Linked DNA regions of Homo sapiens. The protein of the gene in region 1 purifies or fractionates together with the protein of each later gene. This does not show direct contact. Each region holds a gene or a part of one and is shown in the gene's direction. Other genes may lie near its edges. The genes, in order: FAM131C, AGPAT2 and RHBDF2.

Region 1 (3,646 bases):
GCTGGGCGGACTAAATGGCTTAATTCATGTAAGGCATTCAGACCAGTACCCAACACATAGTAAGCACTCGTACATATTAGCTATTGCTCTCATTTTTACTTTTAATTTTAATATTGTATATATTATAATAGAGACAGGCTCTCACTATGTTGCCCAGGCTTATCTCGAACTCCTGGCCTCAAGCCACCCTCCCACCTCGGCCTCCCAAAGTGCTGGGATTACAGGTGTGAGCCACTGCACCCGGCCTTTAATTTTTATTACCTGTCTGTGCAGACAGCTAATGTGGGCCTTCATGGCTGGAAGGGGAAACCTACAGAGGTTTTAAGCCACATCCTGCCTCATGGGAAAGGCAGCGGGTGGCAGGCACTCGAGGTGCTGAGGACATTGAGAAAGTGATTGGGACCAGATTAAGGCAACAAATGCTGTTTCCAGGAGCTATTTTGCATTCATTATCTATTTTTAAGCTACCGTTTGTTGAGCGCTTATCCTGAGCTAGGCTGAGCCTTTGCTCTCCTGACCTAGTTAGTTCTCATTCAACCCTGTGACAAGGGATGTGGGGCTCAGAGAACGGGAGGGTCTTCCCTCAGGTCACATGGCCAGGGCATGGAGAGGCAGGACTTGAATCCAGGTCAATGTGACCCCAGAGCCTGAGTGTGGAAACCCCGTCCTTTGCTTTCTTACGTCCCTATAGAGAGAGAGGTGCTATGGCTCACGCTTATAATCTAAATACTGGGAGGCTGAGGCGGGAGGATCGCTTGAGCCCACGAGTTCAAGACCAGCCTGTGCAACATAGTGAGACCCCATCTCTACAAAAAACTTTTTAAAAATTACCTAGCTGTGGTGGTGTGTGCTGGTAGTCCCAGCTATTTGGGAGGCTGAGGCAGGAGGATGGCTTGAACCCAGGAGGTCGAAGCTGCAGTGAGCTGTGATTACTCCACCGCACTCTAGCCTGGGCAACAAAGACCCTGTCTCAAAAACAAAAAGAGGTGCTAAGTATATGGCCAGTGCTTAGAAAAACAACCTCTTGGAACACTTGAATGGTCCCTATTTGTTGGGGGCTCTGCAACCAATGGCAGTCTGTATGGAACAGAGAGGAATATTTGCCCCCCTTCTCTCCAGTTCCAGGGGCTCAGTACCCGCTCCATGCCCTTGGTGCCATAACCACTCTGCCTCCTCACTCATGCCCCAGCCCTCTCCTCCAGGCCAACTGATCAGCCTCCTGGCCCCACCTTGGGGGTATCCAATGCACTGGGGGCCGGTGGGGTCGGGGGTGAGAGTAGAAATTAGAGACCGAGAATTTTCTTCTGGAAACTCAGACATCTGATCATGTCTGGGTGAAGGCACAAGCTCTAAGGGGGCCGACCAGAGCCACCCATAGTTTCCAAGTCCTGAGCAGTCCTACACCAGGCACTGAGGAAAGGGTAGGTGGGACCTTGCCCTTCGGGAGCTCACAGTCTGATGAGAGAGGTACAGCTTTGCCCGTGGAGTAGCCTAATGGGGGAGGCAGTATGCATGAACCCTTGGAAGGATGCCCCGAGGACCCTGTCTGGAGATCAGCACTGTTTAGTGGTTGGGGCACAAGCTTTGGAGTTTCACAAGGGCCGAAGTGTGACCCTCATCTCTGCTGCTTATTAGCAGGTGACCTTGCATAAGTGATTTATCCTCTCTGAGCCTCCGTTTCCCTATCTGTAAAATGGGCATAACATGTACTTTGCAGGATTGTTGTGTGGGTTAAATGAGAGATCATGGGTGAACAGGCCTAGGACAGACAGTACCTGACACAGTACTGTCACACCTGCTCAGTAAACAGTGGCGGCAAATCACTGCAGGCCAGACTTTGGCCATTAGGACCACAGGTGAGGTACCTAATCCAGCAGAGGCCAATCTGGGCAGGTTGCTTGTGGGAGGTGAGGCTGGAGCAAGATGTTCCCAGAGGCCAGGTCACAGGATGGGAGGGAGCCTGGGGAAGGAAGTGGGGAGGAGCTGGGGTGTGTGGAAGTCCTGGGGAGGAGCCCATTTTCTCTCTCCATCCTTGCACGGGGAGAGAAAGGGACCCCCTTGGATAGCTCTGAGCTGAGCCAACCCACAGATGAGCTATTGTCACGGCTCAGGTGACCTGTAAACAAATGTCCTGGGGAGGAGGGGACACTCAGTCCACTCGAGGCCTGGCCTCTGCCAAGCTCTGTGGCCTGCTCCCCTGGCAGTGACTCAACAGGCAGAGCGGCCAAGGACTCACCCTCAAGGGCTTCCCTCTGCGGAGCCTCCAGAGCCAGCTCCAGCCCTGGGGACAGGACCAGAGGAGTGGCTGACCAAGATGTGTCCCATTGTCCAGAGAGAGACACTGAGGGGAGAGGGGTGGAGCGGCTGCTGCTTACGGACTGCTTGCTGTGGCAGGTGCTTCCTCCTTGCTGCAGCCCTTTCTGGGCTGGTATTATTTCACAGATGAGAATCCAAGGCTCACAGGGGCTAAGTCCCATGCCCACCCCCTGCAGCGGAAAGTGAGAAGCGGGGACTTAAACCCAGCTCAGGGACCGTAAGAGGAATGCCTTGGCCGCTTACGTTCTCTTCAGAGCCAAGGGCAGAGCCCGGCACATCACAGCTGGGCAGTACACACCCGGGCAATGGTTGGCTAGAGGGGCCGCATCGGCTGCAGGTGCCCTGAGAAGCTGAGCAGAGAAGCCCGAGGCTGGCCGGGGAGGAGCATGAGGGGACGCTTTGACCCCAGGCTGCTGCTCAGTTTCTGTGTGGTTTTGAGAGGATATTTACCCTCCCTGGGCTGCTGCAGAGTCAAACACGGTCCCTCTCTGCCCTCTGGGGTGCAGAGCCCTGGGAGGCACTCTTGGGGTAGATGGCAACCATGGTGACTAATGGGTTGGGACACGGAGCCCCAGAGAACAGCTTAAAGGAGTTGGAAGGCCCTGAAGCAGACGAGAGGAGCCTGAGGGGTTGTGCTGCAGACTCACCCAAGGATCAAGTAGAGAAGACCAACCAGTATGGGAACTGCAACAAGAGGGGTTTAGGCTAGACATCAGGAGGAACTGTCTGGGAGGTTAGACTCTAAAGCAGATTGAAGAGGAGCTGGCATAGGAAGGCAGGAAGCACCCTCAAGATGCAGAGGAGAAGCTCTGGTTGAAGACAGAGGGATGGAGGAGACATCTGGTTGACACCCTCTCCTTGAAGAATCAAGATGGCCCTCTCCAGGTTGCCATGGCAGCCAGAAGCCTGTCACTCTTGTGGACAGAGGAGGTGGGGGAGGGAGCAGGTCTGAGAAGGGAATTCTGACCTTGAGGTCAGGAGACTAGGGTGTGGACTGAAAGAAAGGGGGTGTCCTTCTGGGAGAGGGAGCCACAGGAGCAGGTGCTAGCGGTCCCTTCGGGCTGCCTCCCAGCCCCCACCCCACATGACACTCTGTGTTTTTCCAGTTGCCAGTGGTGACGTGACCACCAGTCCCAGCTGGGCGAAGAACAGCCTGTGATTTCACCCTGGGCTGGTTCATTACCTGACGTCCCCATGGCAACCAGCCTGTGACATCATGGGGCCAAAGTCCTCAGGGGGAGCAGGCAGCTTTGGTGGAGGCACCTGAACCCCAACTGAGGTGGGGAGCCAGGCGGGCTGGGGAGGGGGTGGGAGCCAGGAGTCCTCCAAG
Region 2 (3,646 bases), on another chromosome or scaffold:
GCCACGGAACCGTGTGCTGAGAAATGGGTACAATTATATTGTTTAGGTGGTGCGTGTTATACCACAATCAAAACAGAGGAGGGCTCGGCGCGCTGGCTCCTTCCTGTCATCCCAGCACTTTGGGAGGCCGAGGCGGGCGGATCATGAGGTCAGGAGTTTGAGACCAGCCTGGCCGACATGGTGAAACCCCGTCTCTACTAAAAATACAAAAATTAGCCGGGTGTGGTGGCGCACACCAGTAGTCCCAACTACTTGCTAGGCTGAGGCAGGAGAATCGCTTGCCGGGAGGTGGAAATGGCAGTGAGCTGAGATCTCGCCACTGCACTCCAGCCTAGGTGACAGCAAGACTCCGTCTCAAAAAAAATAAAAAATAAATGAAGATCTTATTTTTTAATAATTTCAGATTTACAGAGAAGTTGCAAAGATATTACGGGGGACCCCATGTGGCCCTCACCAGTTTCCTCCCTTGTTAACATCTTACATCACCAAGATGCAGTTGTTAACACTAAGAAACTAGCTGGCCGGGCGCGGTGGCTCACACCTGTAATCCCAGCACTTTGGGAGGCCGAGGTGGGAGGATCACCTGAGGTCAGGAGTTCGAGACCAGCCTGGCCAACATGGTGAAACCCCGTCTCTACTAAAAATACAAAAACTAGCCAGGCCTGGTGGCAGGCACCTGTAATCCCAGCTACTCAGGAGGCTGAGGCAGGAGAATTGCTTGAACCCGGGAGGCAGAGGTTGCAGTGAGCTGAGATCACACCACTGCACTCCAGTCTGGGTGACAGAGTGAGACCCTGTCTCAAAAATAAAAAAGTAAATAAAAGATGGAACTGGCCAATGTCACTACCAGAGGGAACCAATGTCCCTTTCAGATGTGGCCCGAGCCTCCTGCAGGCAGCTAGCTTTGGAATTGCAGGTGTGTCTTGGCTGCTGCTAGAAATCATACACATGTCCTTCACAGGAGATGAGTGTGGACCTGTCCTGTTCTTTCCCCGCGCCCCAGCTGTCTGTGAAATGGACCCTAATTTACTTTCCCTCTTTCTACTGGTGGCTATTTAAGCATTTTCAGGTTTTCCTAATTCACTGCACACTTCAGCACCACAGGCTTCTCACTCCAGCCGTCGGGCGAATTCCTGGAAGATTCTGAGAGGGGAGGGGCCAGGTTTCCTCAGGGCTCTGGCCGGGCCTGCCAACCTGCCCTCCACAGAAGTATCTTGTCTGTGCGACTCCTCACTCCTGCCAGCCGCTGGGCCTGTTCCCAACACCCTGGCTGGCACCTCCTGTTATCAGGCGTTTTAATCTGTGCCAGGGGGAAGGATGAGGACAGTCTCTTGTTTCCATTTGCGCTTCTTTGATTGGCGACACGGCCGTCTTGCTAGCACCAGACAGTTCTGTGTTTCCTGTTGGTGAACTGCCGGCTTTTGCCTCCTCGTCTTCTTGGAGCGTCACAGGGGTCCGGGAAGCTGGATTGCGCAAATGAGTGTGGAGGCAAAACAGCCCTGCAGTTCCCCTGAGTGTGCGGGTGCTACCAGCCCGGGTGTGCCTTCTGGGTGGGAGGGGACGGTGGCCGGCGCGGCCTGGAGAGGAGATATCTAGAGTTGGCTGAGGAAGGCAGATCTGAGGAGGCCCCAGGCTTCCAAGTCCAGGGACGGACGGCTGGACTCATCACCAGAATTAACCATTAGGCCCCCCTTGACTCAGTTTCCCCATCTGCAACAGGGGGTCATGAGCATTGCCCCATCAGCCTGAGGTGGTGCTGCCGCAGGCCTGGGCTCACACATGGAAGGGCAGAGTGCCAGGGCTGGGGAGGGGACAGGGGTTTGTGTCGCATGGGAACAGACGTCAGCCAGAGAAGGTGGAGAGTTCTGGAGATAGAGGGAGGAGATGGCTGCTAGACACCGAATGTGCCCAGCGCCCATGAACTGTGCACCCGGAAAAGGCCAAGGAGATACATTTTATGTTACGTGTATTTTACCACAATTTTTTTTTAAAGGCCGGGCGAGTTGGCTCAGGCCTGTAAGCCCAGCACTTTGGGAGGCCGAGGTCGGCAGGTTGTTTGAGCCTAGGAGTTCGAGACCAGCCTGGCCAGAGATGGTGAAAGCCCATCTGTACCAAAAATACAAAAACTAGCGAGGTGTGGTGGCTCACGTCTGTGGTCCCAGCTAGTCAGGAGCCTGAGGTGGGAGGAGCCCAGGAGGTGGAGGCTGGAGTGAGCCCAGATTGTGACACTGCACAATGTGACACATTGTGTCACAGAGCAAGACAGAGCAAGGGGAGCCTGGGTGACAGAGCAAGACCCTGTTAAAACAACAAAAATCCCCACCAGTATGGCTTTGAGAGAAGGCCCCGGCTTTGAATCTCTGCTCTGTGGCCTGGGGCAGTTACTCAGACTCATCTGTAGAAAGTGTGGGGCCCTTAGGACTGCTGGGGGATCAAATGGTGGGGGGCACTAGTCTGCATGGAGAGGGGAGCAGCACTGGCAGCCCCCCAGTCAGCGCTGGCACAGCCTTGCCCCGGCCATCCACCCCTGCTGGAGCTTCGGAGTGGAGCTCCGTCCTCCTGGCTCCATCCCCGCCGGCTGCCCTGTGATGGGGTGCCCTATCTGGGGTGTGCCCAGAGCTTCCTGGCAGCACAGCAGGGCAGAGGTTGGGACGCTCGGAGCTGGTCAGAGTCTTCGGGTACCCCTTGGACATCCCTGGTCCCAACCATGACGGGCTGCTTGGACAAGGCCACCTCACATTTGCAGGTGCTCCAAGGGCAGCCCCCAGTGGGCTGGGCCCCTGCCAGAGTGGGGGCTGCTGTGGCCAGGGCTCAGGTGGCCCAGACCCTGGCTCTGCTGCTGCTCCTGGTGTGACCTCAGACAAGCCCCGAGCCCCTCGCCGCCTCTTCACGGGGAAAGGGAACCGGCCTGATTCTGTAGGGTAGGGGTGAGAGAGGGTCTCGGTCTCGGCTCTTTTCTGGAAGAACCTTTCGGAGGTCGTTTCAGAGGTCTCCACTGGCGCCGACACTTTCTTCCTGATGTGGCCCTGCCTTGAGGGGCCAGTGACCTTCCCCAGGGTGTGTGGGGCCCCATTTCCTCTGCTGGGGTGCAGAGGCTGCTCTCCCCGACGTGGGTCCTTCATAGCGGACGTGAGAGCCAGTGCCAGTTCCTTTCCGGCTGGGTCCCCTGTGGGGTGGATGAGGGCTGGGTGGGCCCTGGATGTGGATTTGGAAGTGGGCGCCTTCCCATGCTCCTAGCATCCGAGTTCCAGAGGCTCTGGGTTTTCCTCTGTTGCTGGGGAGACGGAGGCAGGGCAGCCGTCCAGGTGGGTGAGCCGGGCCCGGGACTCTGTCCGCTTCAGGGGCTCCCTCCCCTGTGTCTCCCGGTCTCCTGCCCCGTGCCAGGAGGGCCCCTCCCCAGCCTCCTCCACACCCCACCCCCAGGCCTTCGCGCCCCAGCCTCGGCTGCGGGATCTGTGGGACCCGTGTTCATGGTGGCCTCCCCTGCAGCATCATCGGCTGGTTCGTGCGAAGCTTCAAGTACTTTTACGGGCTCCGCTTCGAGGTGCGGGACCCGCGCAGGCTGCAGGAGGCCCGTCCCTGTGTCATCGTCTCCAACCACCAGAGCATCCTGGACATGATGGGTAGGCCGGGCCTCGGGGGTGGC
Region 3 (3,646 bases), on another chromosome or scaffold:
GTAGAGGAATTGAGAGAGTGGAGTGAGCCTCCAGGTGAGGAGATGGTGGAGGTGAGGTGGAGATGGTGGAGGTGAGGTAGAGATGGAGGAGGAGGACAGGTTCAGATGGCTGCTGTCTCGCCGACCCGTGCATGCCACGCCTCAGCCCACACACGCCCTTGGCTGAAGGGCTCCCAGGGAGATGGGTATGGAGTCCCTGGCTTCGTACAAGGAGAGGAAAAACAAAACTTGCCCAGGAACCTTGGGATGTGAAGGAGAGGAAACAGCTGGGGGGGTTTATTTTTATTTTTATTTTTATTTTTGAGACGAAGTTTCGCTCTTGTTGCCCAGGCTGGAGTGCAATGGTGCAATCTCGGCTCACTGCAACCTCTGCCTCCCGGGTTCAAGCAATTCTCCTACCTCAGCCTCCCGAGTAGCTGAGATTACAGGCATGCGCCACCACACCCAGCTAATTTTTTGTATTTTTAGTAGAGACGGGGTTTCTCCATGTTGGTCATGCTGGTCTCGAACTCCCGACCTCAGGTGATCTGCCCACCTTGGCCTCCCAAAGTGCTGGGAGTACAGGCATGAGCCACCGCGCCCGGCCACAGCTGGGGGTTTTAACAAGAAGACGGTCATGGGGCAGAGCAAGAGACGAAACGAAGAGAATGAAACAGGCAGAGGGTGTTAATTCTGGTGGAGTCAGAGGGGAACTGGGGACTGGTGGCACACGCACAGGAAAGCCCCAGATGGGGTACTGGGCAACAGCCACTGAAATTTGGGATGTACTTACTCTTCAACCCAGCCATTCTGCTTCCAGAACTTGGTCTTGTAATAGTTAAACAAGCACACGCGGTGTATGCAAGGGTGTTAGTTGCAACATCAGACCCATGTCTCAAATTCCGGAAACATCCTAAATAACCAGCAGTCTGGACTTAAGTAAATCTTGGTGCATTCCACTTATGAAATCTTTGCATTCATCAAAAAAGACAAGAGGCCTAGGGCCGGGTGTGGTGGCTGAAACCTGTAATCCCAGCACTTTGGGAGGCCGAGGCAGGTGGATCACCTGAGGTCAGGAGTTCGAGACCAGCCTGACCAACATGGAGAAACCCCATCTCTACTAAAAATACAAAATTAGCTGGGCGTGGTGGCGCATGCCCGTAATCCGAGCTTCTTGGGAGGCTGAGGCAGGAGAATCACTTGAACCTGGGAGGTGGAGGTTGCGGTGAGCCGAGATCGCGCCACTGCACTCCAATCTGGGTGACAGAATGAGACCCCATCACAAAAAAAAAGAAAAAAGAAAAAAAGTAGGTCTGTCCGTATGTGTTGACAGGGAAAGATGTCTACAATGCAGGTAAAATGATAGAGTGTGGGCTGGGCTTGGTGGCTCACGCCCATAACCCCGGCTACTTGGGAGGCTGAGGCAAGAGAATTGCTTGAACCTGGGAGGTGGAGGGTGCAATGAGATTGGCTCACAGCAATCTCTTCCTCTCGGGTTCAAGTGATTCTCCTGCCTCAGCCTCCCGAGTAGCTGGAACTACAGGAATGAGGCACTATGCCTGGCTAATTTTTGTATTTTAGTAGAGATGGTGTTTCACTGTGTTGGCCAGGCTAGTCTCGAACTCCTGACCTTAAGTGATCCATCCACCTTGGTCTCCCAAAGTGTTGGGATTGTACGTGTAAGCCACCACACACAGCTGTGTGATTTTTTTTTTTTTTCAATGAGCATATGCCACTTTTATTGTTAAACAGTGTTCTCACTATGGGGGAGAAAAGTGCCAGACAGGTGGCAGTTTCAGTTATCTTTTTTTTTTGAGACATTTTCTCACTCTGTCGCCCAGGCTGGAGTGCAGTGGCATGATCTTGGCTCACTGCAACCTCTGCCTCCTGGGTTCAAGCAATTCTCGTGCCTCAGCCTCCCAAGTAGCTGGGATTATAGGCATGCGCCACCACACCTGGCTAATTTTGTATTTTTAGTAGAGACAGGGTTTTACCATGTTGGCCAGGCTGGTCTCAAACTCCTGACCTCAGGTGATCCACCTACCTCGGCCTCCCAAAGTGCTGGGATTACAGGCATGAGCCACGCACCCAGCCAGTTTTAGTTATCTTTGAAAAATGAACTGGGGCTGGGCACAGTGAGCTTGCACCTGTAATCCCAGCACTTGGGAGGCCAAGGCAGGCAGATGGCTTAAGCCCAGGAGTTCCAGACCAGCCTGGCTAACATGGAGAGACCCCCACCTCTACAGAAAAAAGACAAGAAAAATAAACTGGGTGGCCTTGGGGGACAGGGACCAGCACAGTAGGTTTCTCATCTCTCGGCCCACCTCGGCCTCCCCAAGTGCTGGTATTACAGGTGTGAGCCACCGTCCCTGGCCTGCATCTTCATGCTCTTTTCAGGGTTTGGTTCTTGCCTCAAGCGGAGAGATCAGAAATTGAATGAGGTAGTAAGTTGAGGACCTCCCAGACCCATATGGTCCGGGATGCAAATGATGGTCAGAAATAGACCTCACTCCAACCACTGGGCCTGAGGTTCAGCCTGGTTCAGGCTGGGTTTAGTCCCCAGGGATGGTTTGTTTTTGGTTTTGTGTGTGTGTGTGTGTGTGTGTGTGTGTGTGTGTGTGTGTGTGTGTGTGTTTTCAGACAGAGTCTTGCTCTGTCGCCAGGCTGGAGTGCAGTGGCGCGATCTCGGCTTACTATAACCGCTGCCTCCTGGGTTCAAGCCATCCTGCCTCAGCCTCCCGAGTAGCTGGGATTACAGGCACGTGCCACCACGCCTAGCTAATTTTTTGTATTTTTAGTAGAGACGGGGTTTCACCATGTTGGCCAGGATGGTCTCGATCTCCTGACCTCGTGATCCCCCCACCTCGGCCTCCCAAAGTGCTGGGATTACAGGCGTGAGCCACCGCGCCCAGCCGCCCAGAGATGTTTGAACCAACTTTAGGCAAGTTGGTTCTTGGTCTGGGCTGCGTGCCCTGGCGTCAGGGTCCTGACACTGCGCCACCCCGCACCGCCCACCGCTGCTCTCCCGGTCTCCATTCCAGCCCTCCCGCCTCCTGCCCACAATGGCCTCTGCTGACAAGAATGGCGGGAGCGTGTCCTCTGTGTCCAGCAGCCGCCTGCAGAGCCGGAAGCCACCCAACCTCTCCATCACCATCCCGCCACCCGAGAAAGAGACCCAGGCCCCTGGCGAGCAGGACAGCATGCTGCCTGAGGTAAGGGGGCTGGCCTGGGGGCTCACTGTTCTGCCGTAGGTAACAGATGTACCCACGTGACACTTTCTGGTCAGTTTCACTTCCCAGAGGGGCTCCTTCCTGAGCCACAGCTGCTGTCTGTGCAGCCCTTGACTCGGGCCCTACCCCCTCCTTCCTGGGCCCGAAATATCACAGGGAGTAAAGCCAGGAACCGGGCTCACTCTCATCGTGGTCAGGGGCACACAGGAAGGGCCAGCCCCAAGAAAGTGCTTGCTGGTAACCCTGGGGCCCTGGCTGTTCTCATTTCACCCCCTAGGCCTGGACTCTCAGTCTCTCTTCTGAGGGCTGGGGGCTTTCTTTGACATGGGTGAGCAGGGGACAGTGTCTCCCTGGCATCAGCAGCCCGCCTAGGCAGTGTCCGCTTCCTTTGGGAGGACGAGAACAGATCAGTGTTTCTGACAGTCTGGTCTAGTGCC

Evidence for each region.
Region 2: the proteins of FAM131C (region 1) and AGPAT2 purify together in Homo sapiens (affinity purification with mass spectrometry; one large-scale study listed by BioGRID and IntAct). This does not show direct contact.
Region 3: the proteins of FAM131C (region 1) and RHBDF2 purify together in Homo sapiens (affinity purification with mass spectrometry; one large-scale study listed by BioGRID and IntAct). This does not show direct contact.

What each region holds. Positions count from the first base shown.
Region 1 is NC_000001.11:16,067,110-16,070,755, reverse strand, and holds part of FAM131C (protein FAM131C), read left to right. Parts: intron 1-3,646.
Region 2 is NC_000009.12:136,677,400-136,681,045, reverse strand, and holds part of AGPAT2 (1-acyl-sn-glycerol-3-phosphate acyltransferase beta), read left to right. Parts: intron 1-3,489; coding exon 3,490-3,623; intron 3,624-3,646. UniProt on the Homo sapiens protein: Converts 1-acyl-sn-glycerol-3-phosphate (lysophosphatidic acid or LPA) into 1,2-diacyl-sn-glycerol-3-phosphate (phosphatidic acid or PA) by incorporating an acyl moiety at the sn-2 position of the glycerol backbone.
Region 3 is NC_000017.11:76,480,920-76,484,565, reverse strand, and holds part of RHBDF2 (inactive rhomboid protein 2), read left to right. Parts: intron 1-3,020; 5' UTR 3,021-3,041; coding exon 3,042-3,191; intron 3,192-3,646. UniProt on the Homo sapiens protein: Regulates ADAM17 protease, a sheddase of the epidermal growth factor (EGF) receptor ligands and TNF, thereby plays a role in sleep, cell survival, proliferation, migration and inflammation. Does not exhibit any protease activity on its own.